7 linked regions of the Homo sapiens genome follow. The protein of the gene in region 1 purifies or fractionates together with the protein of each later gene. This does not show direct contact. Each region holds a gene or a part of one and is shown in the gene's direction. Other genes may lie near its edges.

What was found.
Region 2: the proteins of TNPO1 (region 1) and STOM purify together in Homo sapiens (affinity purification with mass spectrometry; one large-scale study listed by BioGRID and IntAct). This does not show direct contact.
Region 3: the proteins of TNPO1 (region 1) and TNPO3 fractionate together in Homo sapiens (co-fractionation; 2 studies listed by BioGRID). This does not show direct contact.
Region 4: the proteins of TNPO1 (region 1) and IREB2 fractionate together in Homo sapiens (co-fractionation; one large-scale study listed by BioGRID). This does not show direct contact.
Region 5: the proteins of TNPO1 (region 1) and PRR14L purify together in Homo sapiens (affinity purification with mass spectrometry; one large-scale study listed by BioGRID and IntAct). This does not show direct contact.
Region 6: the proteins of TNPO1 (region 1) and NUP153 purify together in Homo sapiens (co-immunoprecipitation; 3 studies listed by BioGRID and IntAct, with this or other methods). This does not show direct contact.
Region 7: the proteins of TNPO1 (region 1) and KPNB1 purify together in Homo sapiens (affinity purification with mass spectrometry; 2 studies listed by BioGRID and IntAct, with this or other methods). This does not show direct contact.

Annotation. Positions count from the first base shown.
Region 1 is NC_000005.10:72,893,161-72,896,660, forward strand, and holds part of TNPO1 (transportin-1), read left to right. Parts: coding exon 1-86; intron 87-216; coding exon 217-375; intron 376-455; coding exon 456-543; intron 544-3,297; coding exon 3,298-3,396; intron 3,397-3,500. UniProt on the Homo sapiens protein: Functions in nuclear protein import as nuclear transport receptor. Serves as receptor for nuclear localization signals (NLS) in cargo substrates.
Region 2 is NC_000009.12:121,363,751-121,367,250, reverse strand, and holds part of STOM (stomatin), read left to right. Parts: intron 1-1,005; exon of another isoform or gene 1,006-1,135; intron 1,136-3,500. UniProt on the Homo sapiens protein: Regulates ion channel activity and transmembrane ion transport. Regulates ASIC2 and ASIC3 channel activity.
Region 3 is NC_000007.14:129,045,112-129,048,611, reverse strand, and holds part of TNPO3 (transportin-3), read left to right. Parts: intron 1-3,500. UniProt on the Homo sapiens protein: Importin, which transports target proteins into the nucleus. Specifically mediates the nuclear import of splicing factor serine/arginine (SR) proteins, such as RBM4, SFRS1 and SFRS2, by recognizing phosphorylated SR domains.
Region 4 is NC_000015.10:78,490,216-78,493,715, forward strand, and holds part of IREB2 (iron-responsive element-binding protein 2), read left to right. Parts: intron 1-206; coding exon 207-311; intron 312-403; coding exon 404-546; intron 547-3,500. UniProt on the Homo sapiens protein: RNA-binding protein that binds to iron-responsive elements (IRES), which are stem-loop structures found in the 5'-UTR of ferritin, and delta aminolevulinic acid synthase mRNAs, and in the 3'-UTR of transferrin receptor mRNA.
Region 5 is NC_000022.11:31,715,633-31,719,132, reverse strand, and holds part of PRR14L (protein PRR14L), read left to right. Parts: intron 1-1,841; coding exon 1,842-3,500.
Region 6 is NC_000006.12:17,637,426-17,640,925, reverse strand, and holds part of NUP153 (nuclear pore complex protein Nup153), read left to right. Parts: intron 1-861; coding exon 862-987; intron 988-3,155; coding exon 3,156-3,500. UniProt on the Homo sapiens protein: Component of the nuclear pore complex (NPC), a complex required for the trafficking across the nuclear envelope. Functions as a scaffolding element in the nuclear phase of the NPC essential for normal nucleocytoplasmic transport of proteins and mRNAs.
Region 7 is NC_000017.11:47,666,919-47,670,418, forward strand, and holds part of KPNB1 (importin subunit beta-1), read left to right. Parts: intron 1-1,267; coding exon 1,268-1,492; intron 1,493-2,759; coding exon 2,760-2,951; intron 2,952-3,500.

The DNA of each region.
Region 1 (3,500 bases):
CACTGCAGTCTGGATTCCTTCCGTACTGTGAACCTGTGTATCAGCGTTGTGTAAACCTAGTACAGAAGACTCTTGCACAAGCCATGGTAATTTTTTTAAAATGTCTTCCTCTTCTTGACATGGTGGACATTTTTCTAAAGATAGGTATAATGTATACAGACTTTTTAAGTAGTTAATTAAAACCAAACTTACAAAAAACATTGTGTCTAATTTCAGCTAAACAATGCTCAACCAGATCAATATGAAGCTCCAGATAAAGATTTTATGATAGTGGCTCTTGATTTACTGAGTGGCCTGGCTGAAGGACTTGGAGGCAACATTGAACAGCTGGTAGCCCGAAGTAACATCCTGACACTAATGTATCAGTGCATGCAGGTGAGACTTGAAAGGTGAAAATGAATTGAAGCCTGTTTCTCTGTGTCACATTGGGGTTAATTTCTTCTTATTTCTTGTAGGATAAAATGCCAGAAGTTCGACAGAGTTCTTTTGCCCTGTTAGGTGACCTCACAAAAGCTTGCTTTCAGCATGTTAAGCCTTGTATAGGTATGAATATTTTCTACTGCTATGAATATGGTTTTTTAAAGTTAACATTTACATCAGCTTTGTTTTTTTATTATTAAACTGAAATTGCATGGAATCCCAACATTTATAAATGTACACTTTATTGGTTAAAGTAAACTTGCTGTGATTGAAACAGGCAAGATGGCAGGAACCCCTAATATTTCCTTGAGCTTGCCATCATCTCAGCTTTTTAGGTACTCCTGTGACTGGAGGAAAGCTTAGTAATATACTTTAGAGTAAAGGACATGCCCACCAGGGAAGCCTTGGTACCATGGACTAGTTAATAGATTCTTTTTTGAGTAGCCACCTTTTTGGTAGAGGTACACAGAAATAGTAATAATCAGGTTTTCTTCTCTAGCAAACCAGCATACTTTTTCAGATATTGCAGAAAACTTCCAACAAATGTCACTTTAACTGAGACTGGGCCTGGGGGCTCACACCTGTAATGCCAGCACTTTGGGAAGCCAAGGCAGGCAGATCACTTGAGGTCAGGAGTGCGAGATTCGAGACTAGCATAGCATTTGTCTTGGCCTTCTGTGACAATGATAAGAAATTCCTTGAATGTTGTACCCGGAATTGTTCTTAAACCTATGGGTTATAAATGAGTTATGGGATTTTTTTCCCCCTTTTCTGCATCTCAGCATGTTGGGTAACAATTATTTTAATACAGCCGGGCACGGCGGCTCAGACCTGTAATGCCAGCACTTTGGAAGGCCAAGGCGGGCAGGTCACGAAGTCAGGAGATCAAGACCATCCTGGCTAACACGGTGAAACCCCGCTTCTACTAAAAATACAAAAACTTAGCCAGGCGTGGTGGCTTGTGCCTGTAGTTCTAGCTACTTGGGAAACTGAGGCAGGAAAATCGCTTGAACCCGGGAGGCAGAGTCTGCAGTGAGCTGATACTGTACCACTACACTCCAGCCTGGGCAACAGAGCAAGACTCCGTCTCAAAAAAAATTATTTTAATACTTCATTTAAACCTTAATTTAAAATATTAATTGAATGTTTTGTCATCTGATATAATTGTGCTTTTGGATAACCATTTCTCAAAAAACTAACATAATTAACATTAATTATGATATATTAAGAACCATCAAGTTTAAACCTAACAGTGTAATGAATTCTTATGGGAAGCTTATCATTCTCATATTTACCACCTAATTTAGTTTTTTAGTTGAAACTTATATGAAAGGATTTAATTTTTTTATTATAAAGTGTTTAAGACGTACAAAAGTAGAAAAAATGTAACAAACCTCCTATCACCCAGCTTCAACTGTCCAGTCCTGTTTCCTATATACTGTTGTCAGTGGTGAGACACATAGATCTCAGATATTTTGGAGCAAATCTCAAACACAGCATTTGAAGTCTTAATATTTTAGTACATACTATACTATCTCTTCTTACAATTGTTTTTTGTTAAAGAAACCATGTTTTTTATTCTAAAGAGTTTCCTTTACTGTGGATTTTACTGATTGCATCTTTGTTGTCTTTAACATGTTCCTCTGTCCGTTGTATTTACTGTAAATTGTTTGGATACAGAGACTGAGGTTTAATGAGATTTACGTTGTTTTGTTTTTAAGACTTTATAGATGGTATTGTGTACTTAGTGTACATAGTGTCTAGTTGTCCCTCCTTTTTTTTTTTTTAATGTTACCAATCTTGATGATTGTCTCAATTAGTGGTTCTCAACTAGGGGCAATTTTGCCATTCGGGGAACATTTGCCAGTGTCTGGAGACATTTTGTTTGATGCTGGAGAGGTGCCATTGATGTCTAGTGGGTAGAAGCAAAGGATGTTGCTAAACATCTTATAATACAGGAGACAGCTCCCCTTCCCCCCAACAAAAAAATGATCTGGCCCAAACTGTCAATATTGCTGAGATCAAGAAACCCTGGCTTACATCTCCTGATTTATTAGGAGTTTAAAAAATTATGATATTCTAATTCTTCATTTAATAATGAAGATACTTATATAGGGAGACATTTCCCATATCAATAAATTACTATCCTGAGGTAAAATCATATAGCAGAGGCAAGATAAATACTTGATTCTTTTTTTTATTTACCAATTTTCAAAATAATGAATTGATTCCTATCATCCTCCAAAGGTATCTTTGATGTTTCAGAGTTTTGTTTTTGTTTGATTGTTTTTAGTGCTAGTGTGACTTCATGATGTTCAAGCTGTTGTACTGCTTGCAGTGAGAACTTAAGTTGGCTCCCGAGTCCTTTCATTATGACAAGATAGTCCACTTATTTTGCACATTTCCTGCCTTTGCCTGTAATGTGACGTTTTCTGAGAGTCCATTTTTTTTTAGTGGAAAATGTTATTCAGAGACCACAATCAGAGCACAAGAGTGAAAATTGCTTTAAAAGCCAAAATCATTGATTTTTTTTTTTTAGTCTAATTACAAGAGATTACTCTGACCAACTCTTTTTAGTGGTATGTAAAATATACCCAAACTTGTATTTCCTGTTCCACATTATTTGAAAGTTCATTGGCCAGATACTGTTTTCTTCAGTTTCTTAAGATAAACATTACCAACTCCTTTAAAAAATATTTTTAAATACAGTTGCCTAGTTTATTTCCACCAATTTTAAAATTGATGTTGCAGTAATTTTTTTAATGGTGAAACTTGTTATTTCTTGCTTAGATTTCTGTTTCCACCTAGTAGATTTCCTTTAAAGTACAATATACTGCTATTGAAAAGTTTACTACATAGTTTAAATTTTTTTTCTAGCTGATTTCATGCCAATATTGGGAACCAACCTAAATCCAGAATTCATTTCAGTCTGCAACAATGCCACATGGGCAATTGGAGAAATCTCCATTCAAATGGGTAAGATGTTTTTCCCTATTTAAAAGCATAAGGCCTGGCGCGGTGGCTCACGCCTGTAATCCCAGCACTTCGGGAGGCTGAGGCGGGCAGATCACCTGAGGTCA
Region 2 (3,500 bases), on another chromosome or scaffold:
GCATGGAAAAGCAATTTCCTGAAAACTATTGTAACTACAAAAAAAGTGAATACCCTTTCCCTGCGTCTGCCTGGTATCCTGTGCATATCTCTATCATAATGTTTATTACATAACATATTTATCAGTTTGACTCATCTGTCCCCTCCCCTCCCATAATTAAACTACACTTTTTCTTTTTGAGACCGGGTCTTGCTCTGTTGCCCAGGCTGGAGTGCAATGGTGCAGTCATAGCTCACTGTAGCCTCAAGTGATCCTCCCACCTCAGCCCCTCGAGTAGCTGGGACTACAGGTATGCACCACCACACCCAGCTAATTTTTTTTTTTTTTTTAACTCAGGGTCTCACTATGTTGCCCAGGCTGGTCTCGAACTCCTGGACTCAAGCGATCCCACTTTACCCTCCCAGAGTGCTGGGACAACAGGCATGAGCTACCAAGCCTGGCCTTTAGACCACACTTTTGAAAATAGAGATTGTGTCCTTCTTCACTGTAGTAGCCCAGTATCAAGTACATAGTAGGTATACAAAAACATTTGTTCAAAGAAAAAGGAAGCAGGCAGGGAGATAAAAATCCCCCTGGAGTAAATAACATTGTTAAGTGTTTGCCTTAGCCTTATGTTGGTGGAGCAGTTTTTCTGTTTACCATTTATTTTATTAAGTTTGTTATAACTTAAGCTGTTGATTTTAGGGCATGGCCATTATGTTTATTATATATTATTACAGATAGACTATTTGTCTGGGTTTATATTATCAATAAAAGGATTATAATTGCCAAGATAATATATTGTCCTTAATAAGAAATCTCCTTTTATTTATTAAAGCATGGAAAGAGAAGTTTAGAGGTCATGGTTAGTAGAAAGAAGGAAGTGTGTGTCAATAGATAATTTTCTATTGACACACACTTGTTGATAATTAAAATAGATCATTTCAATTAAAATAATTTTCTATTGACACACACTTGTTGCTACATTCTTTTTTAATCTTTCTCTGTCTGCTGGGACTACTAAAGAAACTTGAACTCCAAGCATTTGGCCTCACATTTCAGAAGATTATCCTTGAAGATACAACCAATAAAGTCCTAAAGTCTCAGACAATGAAAACTATACTGAACTTGTGGTCCAGTTAAAGTGAGCACTATGGTAAGGTAGTAGAATATAGTGAAATGAGAGTGGAATTTATAATTAAAAGATTTAGGTTGAGATCACCCTACCATCACTTAAGAGATTTGTATGAAGGATGGTCCAAGAACATTTAGAACTCTGACTTACTGCCCCAAGTGTAGTCTGTTTCTCCTCCAGAGATAGAGTCCCCAAGCAGATTGTTAGTTGATATTTTCTCCATAGTGCCCAGATCCCAAAAGGTAATTCACTTCATAAAAAGTTTCTTCCTCTAAACTTATCAATAGTGATCTTAAAGTTGTGGTAATAATAATGGCTACTGCTTGTTGAATACTTCCTAAGTGTCAAGCCCTTTACATATTTTCTCGTTTTATCTCCACAACAACTGAGTGAAATAAATACTGTTCTTTTCCCCATTTTACTGATAAGAAAATTTAGTGGTAGATTTGGAATCTAACACCAAAAATGCAAGCTTTTAGCCACTGCTTAGCTGTTAATCACAGTGAAGAACTGAGAACTTTATCATCTAGTTTTCTTCTGCTTCCATTTCCCATTTTTAAATGAAAACGATGTTACCCTCCAAAGACTTATATGAGAAAAACTTAATTGTGAATAATTTTAAGATGTCCAAGTAAAAGAGCTGGGAAAAAAAAAAAAAACCTAAAAAGTGGGAGGGTTTTTGTTCTGTTTTCATGTATTTCAGGCCTAGATGAAATTTAATTAACTTAATACCCATTATGAAATTGTTTTTCTCTCCAATTTTCCTGAACATAAATGTTTTGGTGCTTCCAGACATGGGCCATGTTCAGCCCATTCTTCTGCTTTCCTGAATTCTCTAACGTCATGGTTGGAAAAGGTCTGATTTTTTTTTTAAAAAGAAAATACTTGAGGAAAGCAGTTGACAACTGCTTGGGCAGGAGATGGTTCTGTACTGTATCCCAGGATCCTGTCTGCTGTTTCAGTTTGTCTTATGTGAGAGGCAGTCTTTTTTTTTTCTTTTCCCCAAAAAAACAACACACTCAACTCATCCAGCAACTATTTAACAAATGTTTTTTGAGTACCTGTTATATACACTAAGTGTCTTCCATATTAGCTTATTTACTCATCACACTAACCTGAGGAGGTACTCTTATTAGCCCTATGTTTCAATGGGTAGACTGAGGCACAGTTGAATAATAAGGTACTTTCTCAAGATCACACAGCTAGTAAGTGGCAGAGCCATCTGTGAACCTATTATGCTATACTGTTTTCATAAAACCAAAATCTCATGAAGACACACAACTGAATAGAATAATTACAAGTGTGATAAATGTTGTTTTAAAAGGGTAAAGGGCTATTGCAGCATTATTTTAGACTGAGAGGTCCAAATTTAAAATTATTGCTGTTGCTCTCACCTATTTTTTTCCTCTTGTATGGCCTGAAACATTTGAATGCAGGAAAACTACAGAAAATCCTTAAAATATTTAGGAAATAAGACATTTATGCTTATTTACTTTCCTTATTCTTTTTGAGCTAAGCAAAGAATAACTGTTATTGCAAATCTTTCTTAGAAGTATTAGTCCATTTGTTTTCCTTAGTATTTCACAGTAAACACATTTTAAGCTTTGTAATTCAAACCACATAGTGCTTCATCAGTATCAGTTCTTTTGGTCTAGCATTTATAACTATAGATGGATTTTAATAGGGAGGAAAAGTTACAGTCTTCACTCATGGTTTTTAACTTGATACCATCTGGCCTGTAGCTACTCTAGCCCCAAGAATAATTTCTTCTCTAGAGATTTAAGGATAAGGGCATTCGAACAACTAAGCCGTGCCTAATTAAAATACTAATTTGAAAGGCAGGCTATAATGTGTGTGTGCTTGTTTGCTTTGAAATCTTCTGCCTTAAATGAATTGCAAGTTTTGATCTCTAATGAAACACTATCATTTTTTAACATACGTTTATCGAGACGCTACCATGTGGTAAACTCTGCCTCTTTCTCACTTCTAGCTTTTTTAATCTATCTCTCTTTGTAGGATTCTGTCTTCATTTTTGTTTCTCCCATTTTTACTCCTTCTATTTCTCTTATTTTCCTTCGCTTCTGCTATGTCCTTCCCTTCTTTGTCTTTTTCTCCTAAAATTCCAGTCATTTGAAAAACTTAGTTATAGTAAAAATTTGATTAATTGAAGAGGAATTTATATTCACTTACTCTACCTGCCCTTTTGCTTATTTTCACCAGGAGTTTTTGTTTATCAGGCCTTATAAAGGCCTTGCTTCAAAATAAGCAAAAGGGAGAAACTGAGAAGCTGGGAAATGTACCCTTATTTGAATAGCTGGAAGAAAGATCAAATGCATTATTTAATTTATGCAAGTCTTCCTCCTCAAATAAATAGTTGGCTGACATA
Region 3 (3,500 bases), on another chromosome or scaffold:
TTTCATACTTGCAAATATTCAGGTACAGAAAGGGAGAGGAACTTTTTGACTCAATAAGGCTCTCTTTGTTTATTTATTTTTTGAGACAGAGTCTCACTCTGTTGCCCAGGCCGGAGTGCAGTGGCACCATCTTGGCTCACTGCAACCTCCGCCTCCTGGGTTCAAGCAATTCTCTTGCCTCAGCCTCCCAAGTAGCTGGGACTACAGGCACATGCCACCATGCCCGGCTAATTTTTGTATTTTTAGTAGAGATTGGGGTTTTGCCATGTTGGCCAGGTTTGTCTCAAACTCCTGGCCTTAAGTGATCTGGCCGCCTTGGCCTCCCAAAGTGCTGGGATTAGAGGTGTGAGCCACTGCACCTGGTCTATTTATTTAGTTTTTTGAGACAGGGTCTCACTCTGTTACCCAGGCTGTGGAGCGCAGAGGTGTGATTACTGCTCACTGCAGCCTTGCTCACCTGAGCCTGGGTTCAGGTGATCTTCCCACCTCAGCCTCTTGGACAGCTGGGACTACAGGCATGCACCACCATACCTGGCTAATGTTTTGTATTTTTTGTAGAGTCAGGGTCTTGCCATGTTGCCCAGGCTGGTCTCAAGCCCCTGGGCTCAAGCACTTCTCTCACCTCAGACTCCCAAAGTGCTAGGATTACAGACATGAGTCACTGTGCCTGGCCAAGGCTCTCTTTAAGTGGTCACTAAATGGCATTTGTAACCAAAAGTAATGTGTGTGGTGGTTTTTTTCTTTCCGGAAGATTTTGTCTACTGGAACAAAAGCGTGTTTTAACTGTAGTAATAACTATAGTGTTTTAACATCCATTTGAAATTGGTAAGGCATAGAATTTGTGTGGTTTGCTAAAAAACTACTTTCAAGAATATGTATTTGTGAAACTATTATCCTTATTCTTCTCTACCACCCCACCTAACTAATCCGAGAGTAATTGAGTATAGTTCGAATGACCTGGTGACAGTAGACGTGGTATAGAGGTATAATTTGAATATGCTTTAGCCTGTACTGTGAGTTAGCATCTTTTCTCTTTCTCTAATATTTGTATAAAACAGCCATTTTCTGAAGAATCTGTATTCATTGCTCTAAACTTCCACCAAAATTTTTGGAGATGTACAGCCATGGTTGTTTTATGTGATAGATAGATATCACTGATAACTTCAAAGTGTTCTGAAAGAGAGTATTTTGAGGCAGATCTTAAAGGAATCTTAGTAGCCTGTCCTGTATATTTAGTAGTTTCATTTGTCCACCCCTACTAACCAAAATTAGTAGAAGTTGTAGAGAGCTATTGAAGGAAAGACCATCTCTTCATAGGGCCAATTACTTAAGCGACTCAGTTATAAGTTTTTAATTTAAGTTGTAAGTAGGAGATAACTTTTACAGAGACAATCTTTGGGTTAGATATTACCTCAAAAGTTTTATAGTTCAGTATGGAAACTGAATAGGCATGCTTCAGCATGGGTGTATGCAGCTTTTTGATGGAAAGCATCAAAAGCACAAAGCAGATGAAGTAAAGTCATGCTTTGATAGACTAAGTTGGCATTGTCATGTTTGGTTTATCACATGTCCATAGGAATTTTCTTCTTAGATATCATATCAGAAAGGTCTTGGGTTGATATGGTTTGGCTATGTCCCCACCCACATCTCACCTTGTAATAATACCCCCCGATTTGTGGCAAGGTGGGGCCAGGTAGAGGTAATTGAATCATGATGGGGGGTTCCCTCATACTGTTCTTGTGGTAGTGAATAAGTCTCACAAGTTCTGATGGTTTTATAAATGTGAGTTCCCCTCCACAAGCTCTCTCTTGCCTGCCGCCATGTAAGACGTCGCTTTGCTCTTCCTTCGTCTTCCGCCATAATTGTGAAGCCTCCCCAGCTATGTGAAACTGAGTCAGTTAAACCCCTTTCCTTTATAAATTACCCAGGCTTGGGTATGTCTTTATTAGCAGTGTGAGAACACATTAATACATGGGTCATGGAATATCAGCTTCAAACTTCTTTGCTAGTACTTTTCCTTTTTGGAATTTATTGATTCTTTAGCCTGGTTATAAAACCTAGGGTTTTTGGCTTTTCTCTGGTCATTACTGATTTATCTTGAAAGTTTAGGCATTTTTTGTGTGTGCTTATGCTTGCACCTTCCAGTCAAAACATGCTTTTGAAAGGAAAGCCTTCTAGAAAATAGAAAATATTCCTATACAACTTCAGTAGATGAGTTCAGTCTAGGAATACTCTGTGCCTTGCACTGATAGAAACTGGGAGTATGTAAATAATGAAAACCAAAGATCTTTCTCCCAGAGAGTGTACCAATGTAGCTGTGTCATCCAGTGTAGTAGCCACCAGTCTAGTGTGACTATTTAAACTTAAAATTAAGTAAAAGTTAAAATCAGTTTCTTTTTTTTTTTTTTTTTTTTTTGAGACGGAGTCTCACTCTGTCACTCAGGCTGGAGTGCAGTGGTGCAATCTTGGCTCACTGCAACCTCCACCTCCCGGGTTCAAGCAATTCTGCCTCAGGCTCCCGAGTAACTGGGATTACAGGTGCATGCCACCATGCCTGGCTAATTTTTTGTATTGTTAGTGGAGATGGGGTTTCACTGTGTTAGCCAGAATGGTCTCAATCTCCTGATCTCGTGATCCACCCACCTCAGCCTCCCAGAGTGCTGGGATTACAGGCATGAGCCACTGCGCCCGGCCTAAAATCAGTTTCTTATTTGCACTTACCCACATTCCAAGTACTGTACGGTACAAATATAGAACATTTCATGTCTTTGAAGTATTGGAGTCTATGTTTGTGATTTTGTGACAGTATTTCTGTTGCCATGGTAGTCTGTTATGTGGTGGCATTTCTCCATATTTTGATTAGTTTCTTGTCTTGCCAGGCCTTGGGCCAAAGTTGATAGTTTGATTTAGGATGTAAAATTATCAGGGTACTACTATATTTTCTAATTACAATAGTTTTTCCAAAGTTTTTCAGATATTTCTTCAGCATTCTTTTACAGTGATTGATTGCACTGATGTTTATGGAGGAAATGGAAAGTAGGTTTTATAGATTTTTTTTTTTTTGTGGCAAAACATTCAAAACATAAATTTAGCATTTTAACGTTTTTTTTTTTTCTGAGACAGGGTCTTGTTCTGTTGCCCAGGTTGGAGTGCAGTGGTGCGATCATAGCTCACTGCAGCCTTAAACTCCCAGGCTCAAGCTATCTTGCCTCCTCAGCCTCCCAAGTAGCTGGGATTACAGGCATGAGCTACCGTGCCCAGTCATTTTAACCATTTTTAAGTGTGCAGTTCAGTGGTATTACATACATTGACATTGTTGTGCAACCATCACCATCATCCATCTTCAAAACTTTTTCATCTTGTAAAACTAAATCTATGCCCACTAAACAAAATAGGTGCCCATTTGCTCCCCGCCCCAATCCCTGGCAACCACCATTCTACTTTCTGTCTCTATGAATGTGACTATTCTTGGTACCTCATGTAAGTGGAATCATACAGTA
Region 4 (3,500 bases), on another chromosome or scaffold:
CAGCCTGGGCAAAAATAAAAATTTAAAATTTTTTAAAAAAAAGAAAAGAATACACTCTTAATTTTCTTTCCAAATGGATAAGGCCTATTTTTGTTGTTGTTGTTGTGACCTAAGTACTATTTTATTCCCTTGATCATTTTCATGCGCCTCTTTTTCTGAGTCCTTTTATCTTTGCTTTGGTTCATCAACGAAAACTGTATTCACAGATGGGGAATAAACGGTGGAATTCCTTAGAAGCACCGGATTCAGTTTTGTTTCCATGGGACTTAAAGTCTACTTATATCAGATGCCCTTCATTTTTTGATAAACTTGTAAGTACTGTTTTACTATTTGATCTTTTAAAGATTGTTATAAACTAAGAAGTCTTGTAAAGAGTTAAATGCCTTGAACTTTTACCTTCTAGACCAAAGAGCCAATTGCACTCCAGGCTATTGAAAATGCCCATGTCTTATTATATTTGGGAGACTCTGTCACAACAGATCATATATCACCTGCAGGAAGTATCGCTAGGAATAGTGCTGCCGCTAAGTATTTGACAAACAGAGGGTATGTGTACATGGCTTTAGAGTGTTTTTGTTTTTTCTTGTTTCTTACTGATTAAGAGGCTTCTATTGGTCTTGTTCCTTTTTTCCAGTAAATACATGCTATCGTAGGTAATCTGACTGCCAATGTGTTTGTCTTAAGCAAGAATGGAGAGTGGCGGGGTGGGGAGGCGGGGGGTACCTTCTGTACTTGTCTTTGCTTGTGACTTTAGAAAATGAAATTGCAATTTTAAATTGAGCCCTTATAGTCTAAATAAACAGCTGATTGGAAATAAGATTTTTCTTTTTCAGTGCTACTTTATTGAAAAGTCAGCTTGGTTTTACCTACCAAATGAAGCCTGCTCATTTGGTTAAAACCAGCTTCCCATTATTGGAGTAAGGAATTTAAATGTGTATTTTATGGGCTATAACATGTACGTGTGTGAGGCTGGGAATGATATGTACAAATCAAAAGACAATGAATTTCTGCTTCATGAGCCTAAAATTTTATAGGAACAATAAACGTAAAGGCCATTTATATTGGAGATATAAATTTAAAACTGGTAAGATTTCATTTCTACATGATTAATCATGTAGAGTTGCCCTGTTATCAAAGGACTGTTTTGACAATAGAGACAAAGTTTTGTTAAAAGCAGGATTTGTAGTACTGCTACCTGATTAGCTTATTGGATGCTTGTTTGATGCTTGAGTAATTAAAATGACAAGCTTTTTCATTGAAATTTATTTATTTATGTATGTATTTATTTATGTATTTATTTTTGAGACAGACTCACTCTGTCACCCAGGCTGGAGTGCAGTGGTGTGATCTCAGCTCACTGCCACCTCTGCATCCCGGGTTCAAGCAATTCTCCTACCTCAGCCTCCCAACTAGCTGGGATTACAGGCACGCGCCACCATGCCCAGCAAGTTTTTATATTTTTAGTAGAGACAGGGTTTCACCATGTTGGTCAGGCTGGTATCAAACTCCTGACCAAGTGATCCGCCCACCTCGGCCCCCCAAATTGCTGGGATTACAGGCATGAGCAACCGTGCCCAGCCAAAATGTCAATGTAGCTTGTGTTGACATGTGATAATATTGCACAGCTTTTATTATAAAGTGGTGAGAAATAAGTTTCCTTTCCTGTAAATATTTTTTTGGTTGTGATTTCCATCTTCATCATAATTGTGACATACCTCCAAAAAAGAAAAACAGTCAACACTTCTCTCAAATGTACAATTTTTGTAATTATTATGCCTCCTGATATGTATTTCTTAGCACATTTAATCCAGTAGTGCTCATCAATTAGAATTTTCTAAAAATAAAGACACTCAAACCTCCTACCACTCCCATCCTGAAGTAAAAATTTAAATGCACAAATTTAGAATATTGTTGCCTCTGCATAAAAGACCAAATCAGAGGCTGATAAAAGTCAGTTGTTGATTGTTGAGATACTTATGTTCAGTTATTTTTCCCTAAAAAGTTATATATGGTCACTAATCCAGTAGCAATACCCCCCGCACCCAGATTATGATTTCTAAATACTGTTTCCCACTATAGTGAACCAGTGCTTCATGGAGAAATTATTGATTCCAGATCTGGGACTGGAAAATGTACACAATTTTACCAAAAATTACCAAGATTACCAAAAATAAAATTACAAAGATTACCTGATGGTCACAGACCATCAGGCTTCTGTCTAAAGGTCTCAGGGTCAGGACCAGCTCATTAGCTTGAAAACTGGTAAATAATCAATTCTTTAACCAGCCTTTCATGTATGGAATGTATTTCAGCATAACCAAATCATTGATGAAGGAAAGTTTGTCATTTGTTTGTTTGTTTGTTTTTAGAGACAGGGTCTCACTCTTGCCTGGGCTGAAAGGCAGTGGCACTTGGCCCTCTGCTGCTTGGAACTCGTGGGCTCAAGCACTCCTCCTGTCTCACCCTCCTGAGTAGCTTGGGACTACAGGCTCGCACCGTCATGCCTGGATAATTTTTAATTTTTTGTAGAGATGAGATCTCCCTTTGTTGCACAGGCTGGTCTCCAACACATGGGCTCGAGCATTCCTCCCACTTTGGCCTCCCAGAGTGCTGGTATTGCAGGCAAGAGCCAACATACCTGCTGGAAAGTTTTTCTTTATAGAACTTTTGTACCTAAAAAATGAAGAAGGAATGGGTGAATTATAGTATCACTATTTTACGGTCTCTAATAAGCAATCTAGACCACAATGAGCAATCACTGGTAACATTCCAGGAAAAGACAGTTGGCTATCTTGTGCCTCCTAATAGAAGTACATATGACCTATGAAGCATTGTTGCCAAAAATTAAAAACCCAAATCTTATCAAACCACTGGATCTGACATGTGATTTACAAGAACAGAAGGCAGAAGAACATGTTAAATGATTCATGGAGATGCAGTCAACACAATGTGGGTACAGAAAACTATACAAGTAACTTTATTGCATCAGATAGAGCACAAGCAGGAGGAAGGAGAGGGAACATATACTGTCATTCTTCAGTATAGATGTGGGACTGGTTCCAGGACCACCCATGTATACCCAAATCCACACATACTGAATTCCTACAGTCAGCCTTGCAGAAGCCACATATATGAAAAGTCGTATTTGCAGTTTTCTGCATCCTGTGAATAATATATTTTCTGTCAGTGTTTGGTTGAAAAAAAATCGATGTATAAGTGGACCCACACAACTCAAATTCATGTTTAAAGGTCAACTGTAGATTAAAACACTTGAGATCAACTGAACACATTTATGAACTGCATTTGGATCCTGATTTGAACAAACCAACTTAGTTTGGAAATAATCAGTGACAATATTGACTATCTGATGTTAAGAAATTATTGTGATTTTTTTTTTTTGGTGTAAAGATTTTTTTTTAAGAGTCTACATCTTTTAGTGAAATGTACTGAAAAGTATGCTGTTAAAATTATCTCAGTTTTGCTTCAAAATAATCTAATGG
Region 5 (3,500 bases), on another chromosome or scaffold:
CTGCATCAAACTCAGGAATTAGATTGTTTTGTTTTGTTTTGTTTTGTTCTTTGTTTTTTGAGACAGAGTCTTGCTCTGTCACCCAGGCTAGAGTGTAGTGGCATGATCTTGGCTCACTGCAACCTCCGCCTCCTGGATTCAAGCGATTCCCCTGCTTCAGCCTCCCCAGTAGCTGGGATTACAGGCATGTGCCACCATGCCCAGCTAATTTTTGTATTTTCGGTAGAGATGGGTTTTTGTCATGTTGGCCAGGCTAGTCTTGAACTCCTGACCTCGTGTGATCCATCCACCTCGGCCTCCCAAAATGCTGGGATTACAGGCATGAGCCACCATGCCTGGCCGATCTTTAAATAGATTTGCATTTTGCTTTTTCTGTTTAATACAGTTGTCCTGTTTTTTATATATATATATAAAATCATGTGTACATATACCCATGTTCATGTGTATAGTGTGCTAGTCAGGGTTCTCTTAGGGGAACAGAACTAATAGGAGATCACCTGAGGTCGAGAGTTTGAGACCAGCCTGGCCAACATGGTGAAACCCCGTCTCTAGTAAAAATACAAAAAAATTAGCTGGGCAGGCCGGGCGTGGTGGCTCACGCCTGTAATCCCAGCACTTTGGAAGGCCAAGGTGGGCGGATCATGAGGTCAGGAGATCAAGACCATCCTAACATGGTGAAACCCTGTCTGTACTAAAAATACAAAAAGAAATTAGCCAGGTGTGGTGGTGGGCGTCTGTAGTCCCAGCTACTCGGGAGGCTGAGGCAGGAGAATGGCATGAACCCGGGAGGCGGAGGTTGCAGTGAGCCGAGATTGCGCCACTGCACTCCAGCCTGGGCGACAAAGCAAGACTCTGTCTCAAAACAAAAACAAAAACAAAAACCCCCCCAAAAAATTAGCTGGGCGGGCCGGGCGTGGTGGCTTATGCCTGTAGTCTCAGCACTTTGGGAGGCCGAGGCAGGCGGGTCACCTGAGGTCAGGAGTTCGAGACCAGCCTGGCCAACATGGTGAAACTCCGTCTCTACTAAAACTACAAAAATTAGGCGGGCATGGTGGCGGGTGCCTGTAATCCCAGCTACTCAGGAGGCTGAAGCAGGAGAATTGCTTGAACCCAGGAAGTGGAGGTTGCAGTGAGCCAATATCGTGCCACTGCACTCCAGCCTGGGCGACAAGAGCAAGACTCCATCTCAAAAAAAAAAAAAAAAAATTAGCTGGGGGTGGTTGCAGGCACCTAGAATCCCAGCTACTCAGGAGGCTGAGGCGGGAAAATTGCTTGAGCTGAGAGGTGGAGGTTGCAGTGAACTGAGATCGCACTACTGTACTCCAGCATGGGCAACAGAGCAAGACTCTGTCTGAAAAAAATAAATAGGTAAATAAATAAATAAAGTTTTAGGTATAGTTGTTTTTTTCCAAGGACTAATTTTATCGATGACATCTAATTTCAAGTACTGAGAACATGGTCATCTAGTAAAATAAGCTGTTATTGTGAGTCTGCTTTATTAATGTTTTAAAATGAAAGCCTCTTAAGACTGAATGAGAATACAACATAGGAACATATTTCTATGTTGTATTCAGTTGTCCAGCATTGATCTGTGAACTCTGTATTAAACTTTCAGCAAGAGGCATTTGTTGAAAATTACGTTTCTGCCAGATATAGTTTTGGCCCTCTGTTATATTTTCAGAGAAGAACAAAATCAATGGTATAGCATGCTAACTTTCCAGTTTTCTTTTTGAGTTGGGTCTTCTGTTGCCCTTGGTAGCATAGCATAATAAAATGCATGAAGGTAGACCAAGTGATTTTTTATTACTGCATATTAATTTGGATTTATTTCTCTTATTCAGAAGGAAATGTACAGATTACAGCTGAAACTCTGCTAAAATCCGCCGAAGTACAAGGTATGAAGGTCAATGGGACTAAGACGGATAATAATGAAGGACACAAAAATGGCAATGTGAGTAAAGATCTCTCAGCTGGATGCGGTGAATTCCAAGAAGTAGACAAAATCATGACCAGTGATGAGGTTTCAGAAACCAGCACATTAGTTACCCCAGAACCTTTAACCTTTGTGGACCCTGTATTAACAGAAGCAACTCCTAAAGAAAAAGAATGTGAAGAATTAAAAAGTTGTCCTTGGTTGTCATTACCAGGAAACAGTGCCATTTCTAATGTGGACAATGGGAAGGAAGAGTTGTGTAAACCAAACCTGGTCTGTGAAGCAGATGACAATCACCAACAGCTTCATGGCCACCATAATGAACAACCCAGTTCTACACATGATAGTCCCACAGCCACAAGCCCTTTGAAAGAAAATTCTGAAGTTTCATGTTTCACATCAGACTTGTCTGGTCCAGAATCCAGAACAATATCCTTAGAAAACTGTGGTTTTGAAGGTGGTGGTTTGCTAAAGAGATCTGCTGAAAAGACAGACAGTTCTTATTTTTATAGGGGGGATGATCAAGGGAAGAACTTGGCTTCTAGAGAAGAAAATGAGGAACGGCTTTTGATTCCTAGGAGTGAAAGAGGTGGACCTTTTCTTTTTAATGCCAGGGAACCAGAAAAGGAGATTAGTGGTCGTTGTTCTGGTGAAAAAGAGCCTGTTGTTTCTCCAAAGGAAAATATCCACAATAACTGCATTCAAGACAGTCTCCATACAGGGAACTCTAGTTCTTTAATGCCCAATTCTTTTACTGAAGCCACAGAAGTAATGTTAAATAAAAATGATTTGAAAATTACTGTACACGTTCAAGGTAACTTGACAAACCCTGAGGACCATAAAGAAACTTTTACTAATATGAGCCATCCTGGTGGACACTCTGAAGAAAGCAGTTTTTCCTCCTTGATGCAGATTGAAGAGGCAGGACAGACAACCCCTGTAGAGCCCAATATATTAAGTAAATCTTTTTACACTAAAGACTGTAACTCCTTAGTCAGCATCCAGAGAAATCTGGAAGGCAACACCCAGTTAAATGAAGCATCATGTAATGATTTTCTGTTTGAAAGAAAATCCATTGTGAGTTTAATGCCAGAGGATCAAATAAGTCCTGTAAGTGAGGTATTAAAACCCAAGCAAGGTACTGCTCTGTTGCTACCATCCCCAGAATTTGATTACAGACCTGAGTCAGAAAAAGTTATACAGACCTCACATGATGATATTCCACTTTTAGATGAACAGAGCATAGCCTGTGAGATGAATGAACTTTCTTGTACCAATGAACTGGTTGTAAACAAAGTAGAAAGTGAATGTGTTTTAAATCAACAAGTGTCCCTTAATTCTCAAGAACATGCAAATTTGCCAACTGACTCTCTACTGCATTTAAACAAAGAGATGCCTTTAGCAACAGGCAGAGATGCCCATCAGAGCCATCACCCTCCATTAGAGGGTAGAGCAGATGTCATTGCTGATATACAAACCATTCCCATTCAGACAAAAATAAAAGACATCTCTCCACCAGGTAACCAAACCTGTGGTGCCTCTTCAAACTGTCCCACCTTAAACATCA
Region 6 (3,500 bases), on another chromosome or scaffold:
GTGGGCCAGGCATGATGACTCATGCCAGTAATGCCAGTGCTTTGGGAGGCCGATGTGGGAGGATCACCTGAGGCCAGGAGTTTAAGACCAGTCTGGCCAGCCATAGTGAGACCCCATGTCTACAAAAAAGTAAAAAAAAAAATGAGCTAGATGTGGTGGCATGCGCCTGTGTTCCTGGCTACTTGAGAGGCTAAGGTGGGAGGATTGCTTAAGCCCAGGAGTTTGAGGATGCATTAAGCTATGATTGCACCACTGTACTCCGGCCTTGCTGACAACAAGACACTCACTCTCTGTTTTGAAAAAGAATGATTTCTGTGGCTGCATAAGTATTTCATCATGTCACTGTTATGTAATTTATGTAACCATATACCCTTATTTAATATTTTACCATATAGGTTTTCAATATTATAACTGAAGGATATTTTCAATTATATTAATAGTGTGAATTTCTAAAAATGAAATAATTGCTCAGTTGAAAATTACTTTTTTTGATTAGTTTTGTAAATTGTTGTGTAATCAGATATTTCATGCAGTGGATGGGCTTGCCCTAGTTGCCATATCCTCTCCAGTTTTTTAGTTTGATTGTTTTGATTATCAGTCAGTTAATTGGACGATAATTATAGTTTATATTTTTTTGCCTTTTTATTGGTGGGGGAAGTTATATAGTATGGGAATAGTGTTTTTATCTCCTTGTAATGGCAAATTATCCCTGTAAAGTCATTTGTTTATTGAATTAAAGTGACTTTTTTCATGAACTTTTAGAAATTAATCCAAAAGATGGTTTTGAAAGATTTTTAAAAATGCATTTGAGAGTCCAGTGTTTTATTTGGCATAATGTTATTAAATTTAAAAAAATTACAGCTCATCATGTCACTACAGTGAACAGTACAAATTGTAAGAAGACACCACCTGAAGATTGTGAGGGTCCTTTTAGACCTGCAGAAATCCTGAAAGAAGGAAGTGTTCTAGATATTCTGAAAAGCCCTGGTAAGATAATTAAAAGATAAGCCTTTTGATTACAAACTCATGATCTCAATTTAATGTCATTTTGTATTATACTTTAGGCTTTTAAAAATTTCTGACTAGTTTGGTAGGAGATTTACTTTTGAATAGAGATGTAGTTAGGTGTAATTCTTTTGCTGGAAATATCTTACAAGCCAAAGGACTCTATACTAAAATGAAATTTCTAATAGGCAAGTGTAGGAGGAGGAAATGGATTCTCCATTAATAGAGGTAGGTCAGTGAGGAATAAGAGTAAGTAAACCTGATGATACACATAGACATGTCTTTCTCTTATGAGAGCACTGAACTGCCTTCTTGAATTATTCCCCAGTTTGGTAAATATGGAACAAGGCCAAGTGGAAAGCATCTGCTGAATTGTAACATATACATAGGGAGCAGTACTCACTTGAATTGAAGCAAGATTTGAAAGCTAGTAGGTAATAATTAGAAAGGGGATAAATAGTTCTCAGATAAGAATAATTTTTTGTTTGAAAACAGGATGTTCATAATTCCATTTATGATACATAGTATAAGAATGTAAAACTTGCCAGGCGCGGTGGCTCACCCTTGTAATCCCAGCACTTTGGGAGGCCAAGACGGGCAGATCACTTGAGGCCAGGAGTTGAAGACCAGCCTGGCCAACATGGCGAAACCCCATCTCTATTAAAAAGAGAAAAAATTAGCTGGGCGTCCTGGCATGCACCTGTAGTTCCAGCTACTCGGGAGGCTGAGGCAGGAGAATTGCTTGAACCTGGGAGGTGGAGGTTGCAGTGAACCGAGATCGAACCACTGCACTCCAGCCTGGGCGACAGAGCAAGACTCTGTCTTTAAAAAAAAAAGAAAGGAAAAGAAAAAAAGAATAAAAGAATGTAAAACTGTGAGATAATCTAATAGCTCAGAAAGAATTTAAACGTACCCACCAGATGTGTCCATGTGTAATAAGATAGGTTTTCTTAAAAAATAAGGTTGGCTTTTACAACAGGATTTAGGAGGATTCAATTTTTCTGGTCCAGCTCTCTCATTTTATAGATAAGTATACTGCCTACAGGAGTCCAGTAGCTTGGACAGTTCCATGCAGTTATGGTAGAACTCCAGAGTGCTTGTGCTGGAATTAACCAAGTAGTAGGCAAGCCTCAAATGTGTATAGTCTGTCTTGTGTATCTGGGGTTACACTTTGCATTCATGATGCCAACCTCCCCCTGCTCCCTTTTTACTTCTTAAATAGGAAATGTTTGGGGAGAATCTTCATTTGACTGAAATTAGGAAAATCTGAAAAAGTAGAAGAAAAAGAAATCTGTAATGCCTTGAGATGGTTACTGTTAATATCTTGCCAATCTTAGTGATTTAAATTAATCATAAGCAAAATAACACGTTGCCCACTGGGAATAACTCAAGCATGTGGTATTTTGTCCTTAAGCTAAAAATAGCTCTAGGCTGGATTATTTTGTGGAACTAGAAAACCTCTAATAACCTTCTACATCTTCTCTCCTTTTAATTTCTTTTTCTTTGGCGGGTAAGGCTGGAGAAACAGATCACAGATGGTGGTGTTGTGTGTAAGACAAAAGTTAACTGGTCCTAAGTAAACAATTACAAAAGTCATTCTCATGAGTAAAATACAGCTTGAGTGAATGAACTCAATGACAGCAGTTTTGGTAACAGAAGGACTTGCTCAGCTGATTTTACTGAAGGTAGAGAATACCACAGCAGTAGGTTATGACTGGACAAAATTCAAAGATGACATTGAAGCCATTTGGTGTAGCCAATGGAACACTTAAAAGAAGAAATGGATGAAGGAGAAAGAGGACTGCGAGTATTGTGTGTTTGTAGAGAGACAGAATATAGCAAAATGTGGATGGCAATAATACATATCAGTAAATTAGTACCATTGAAAGCATCAAACTAGAAATTCCTTGAAGGAGAAGGTGATATCCTGTAAACAAAACATCTTTTGTAGAATTTTAAATGGTTTAAGTGTAACTTATTAGGTAATTGATAAATATGATTACTTAAGTGAAAAACAATTCTTAAGTAGTTCATCTTGGATTGTAGTAAGTGTGCAGTGAGGTAAACGTCTTCTCAGTAATAATAATCAAATTAATGCTTTGATTTATAAAGCTTCTCTAACGTTGCACTCTCTCCTTCGTTCATTGTAGGTTTCGCATCGCCGAAGATAGATTCTGTTGCTGCTCAGCCCACCGCAACAAGCCCAGTAGTTTATACAAGACCAGCAATAAGTAGCTTTTCTTCTAGTGGAATTGGGTTTGGGGAGAGTTTAAAAGCTGGGTCATCATGGCAGTGTGATACATGTCTACTCCAGAACAAAGTTACAGACAACAAATGCATAGCCTGTCAAGCAGCAAAATTGTCACCCAGAGATACTGCTAAACAGACTGGAATTGAAACACCAAATAAAAGTGGCAAAACAACTCTTTCTGCATCAGGGACAGGCTTTGGAGACAAATTTAAACCAGTGATAGGCACTTGGGATTGTGATACCT
Region 7 (3,500 bases), on another chromosome or scaffold:
CTTTCTTATATTTTTATTGTGCTTTTCCTATTTGAGAACAAATTATTCTTTGTGTGATTTTCTGAAACTGCATAGGCAACCTGCCTTAAGTTTACTATGTGGTGTGAATGGCCACAATTAGGAAGCTATACCTTGGATTCTAACTTAAGAGGAGATATTAGTGGAATCTTTTCTTTTTTGAACTTTTGTGGTTTTGGTTTTTGGTTTTTTGGGGTGGCGTTGGGGGGTACAGAGTCTTGCTCTATCACCCAGGCTGGAGTGCAGTGGGGCGGTCTTGGCTCACTACAACCTTCATCTCCCTGGTTCATGTGATTCTCTTGCCTCAGCCTCCCGAGTAGCTGGGATTAACAGGTGTGTGCCACTATACCCAGCTAGTCTTTGTATTTTTAGTAGAAACGAGGTTTCACCATGTTTACCAGGCTGGTCTCGAAGTCCTGACCTCAAGTGATCTGCCTGCCTTGGCCTCCTAAAGTGCTGGGATTACAGGCATGAGCCACTGCACTGCACCTTGCCTCTTTTTTGAACTTTTGATTGAATCATGTCTTCTTCCCAGTCATGAAACTCCCTTACTTTCCTGGTCTTTTATTCCATAGGTTAATTTTTGTTGATTTTGGACTTTATTTATTATTATTTTTAATACTATGTTTTTTTTTTTTTCTGACAGAGTCTCACTCTGTTACACAGGCTGGAGCACAGTGGCACAATCTCGGCTCACTGCAACCTCCGCCTTCCAGGTTCAAGCAATTCTCCTGCCTTGGCCTCCTGAGTAGCTGGGACTACAGGCACGTGCCACCACACCCAGCTAATTTTTGTATTTTTAGTAGAGATGGGGTTTCACCATGTTGACCAGGCTGGTCTCAAACTCCTGACCTCAGGTGATCCACCCACCTTAGCCTCCCAAAGTGCTGGGATTACAGGCATGAGCCACCGCGCCTGGCCGATTTTGGACTTTACATAACTGGAATCATACAGCATACATTCTAGTTCTGTATTTTGTTCTAAATGTTTGGAATTCATTCTTTTTGGATGTAGTTGAAATTTTTTCATTCTTGTTGTGTAGTACTAAATGGAATCTTCTTCCATCTGAATCTTGTTTAACAAAGGCTATGCTGTGATGAATGTTTGTGGAAGAGACAAAATATAAAGGTCTTATATTTTATTTCCCTGGAGTTTAAGTTCTAAAGACATTCAAGAGTAGTCAGAGGACCTTTAGAGTTAAAATGATTCTTTGGACAAAATCTTAACTAGTGCCATATTCTTTCACCAGGACGAAAATGATGATGACGATGACTGGAACCCCTGCAAAGCAGCAGGGGTGTGCCTCATGCTTCTGGCCACCTGCTGTGAAGATGACATTGTCCCACATGTCCTCCCCTTCATTAAAGAACACATCAAGAACCCAGATTGGCGGTACCGGGATGCAGCAGTGATGGCTTTTGGTTGTATCTTGGAAGGACCAGAGCCCAGTCAGCTCAAACCACTAGTTATACAGGTGAAACTGAGGGATTTTTGGAGTAGAAAGTAGGATATTTATTGTTTAAACTTAAAGCATATCTTTATTTTTCAAAACAAAACTGTAAATTGTCATCTACAAAGATTATCTCTAGATACTTGTTTACTTTTAATGAGGGTAAAATATATTTCTTAGGTTTTTAATTACATAAGTCAGCATGATCCAGAGACATGTGAAAGAAGCCAAAAGAGAAAAGTCATCTTTAATTTCATTGCCCAGAAATACCACTCTTAACTCTGTATTTATCCTTGAAGCTTTTTCCTATGTGCATGTGTGTGCAACAGGCTCTTCCTGTGCAGATTGTTTTATAACTTGTTTCTTCATTTAATACTATGTTGTAAACATTTCCCAATAATTTTTTTTTGCACCTAGCACTGATTCCCCATAATTTTTAATAATGGCATTATTATTCTATTCTTTGGACAAAATGTCCTTTATGTAATGAAAATGTTCTTATGGAAATGTTGTGCTTGTTTTGCTATTACAAGTCGTGCCATTGCACTCCAGCCTGGGCAACGAGCGAAACTCTATCTCAAAAAAAAAAAAAAGAGTTTGTTATAGTTGAGTTTAGTGCTTAAAGAATTCAGTCTTCAGTCTTTCTGGATATAGCCAGATGCCATCATAGCTGCATCCTGAGAATTCTGAGTATCTGAGTAATTCTTTTTTTTTTTGAGGTAGGGAGGCGGGGGGATGGAGTCTTACTCTGTCACCCATGCTGGAGTGCTGAAGTGCAGTGGTGCAATCTAGGCTCACTGCAACCTCCAGCTCCCCAGCTTAAGCAATTCTCGTGCCTCAGCCCCCTGAGTAGGTGGGACTATGTGCCACCATGCCCAGCTAATTTTTGTATTCTTAGTAGAGAGACCGGGTTTCATCATGTTGGTCAGGCTGGTCTTGAACTCCTGACCTCAAGCAACTCCTGACCTCAAGTGATCTGCCTGCCTCAGCCTCCCAGAGTGCTGGGATTACAGGCATGAGCCATCATCATGCCCGGCCTCTATCTGAGTAATTTATTGCAGACTACTAAAAGCATTTACACCAAATTCTTAATATAAAACTCTAAACTGGAGTTTTGAAAGATATTTTCAAATATTTTGAAAGATGTTTCACACCATGTCCTGTAAAATTACAGAAGTATCTTGGTGACTTTTTTGAGTTAAGCCATCCATCAGTATTTCTTTCTCTGGGGTAGTAGTTAACATGAATTTTAATCTTTGTTTTGCTTTGCTAATAACTGTTATATTTTCAGGCTATGCCCACCCTAATAGAATTAATGAAAGACCCCAGTGTAGTTGTTCGAGATACAGCTGCATGGACTGTAGGCAGAATTTGTGAGCTGCTTCCTGAAGCTGCCATCAATGATGTCTACTTGGCTCCCCTGCTACAGTGTCTGATTGAGGGTCTCAGTGCTGAACCCAGAGTGGCTTCAAATGTGTGCTGGGTAAGGGATTTTCTTGCTGGTGAGAAAAGGAGCTTGCCTGCGCCACTGGCAAGAAAGTAGAAGGTGTGGGAGAGAAATCAATCTGCCTCACTGGAATGCTTTTTCTGATTTTCTTTCTAATTTATTCAATTAAAATGTGGGGGAGATTCCAACTGCAAGAGCCAGTGGGAACACTTGACTTATGGTTACTGGTTCCTGAACCACTTAGAACAGTCATGGTAACCCAGTGGGGAAACTATCTGGACTTGGGTTGCTTTCTTGAATTGCTTGGGGACAAGAAGTTTTGATTAAGGTAGAGAGTTTTTGGCTGTAAGAAGTATCATTGCTGAGTAGAGGGCAAGAGGGAAGGAAGGTAGGCAGCCTAAATGCTGAGTCAGTATAGGCTAATGTAATTGGTTAAGGGGAGGAAGTTCAAATAAGGAAGGAATGGGGCTAAACGTCTTTCTGTGAAAGGAAACAGAAATGAAATGGCAGGTATGGTTGAAAGTACTCTGCTGCTTAGAGAGTTGTCAGATTATCAAACAGGATGATGAGAGATGTCAGATTATC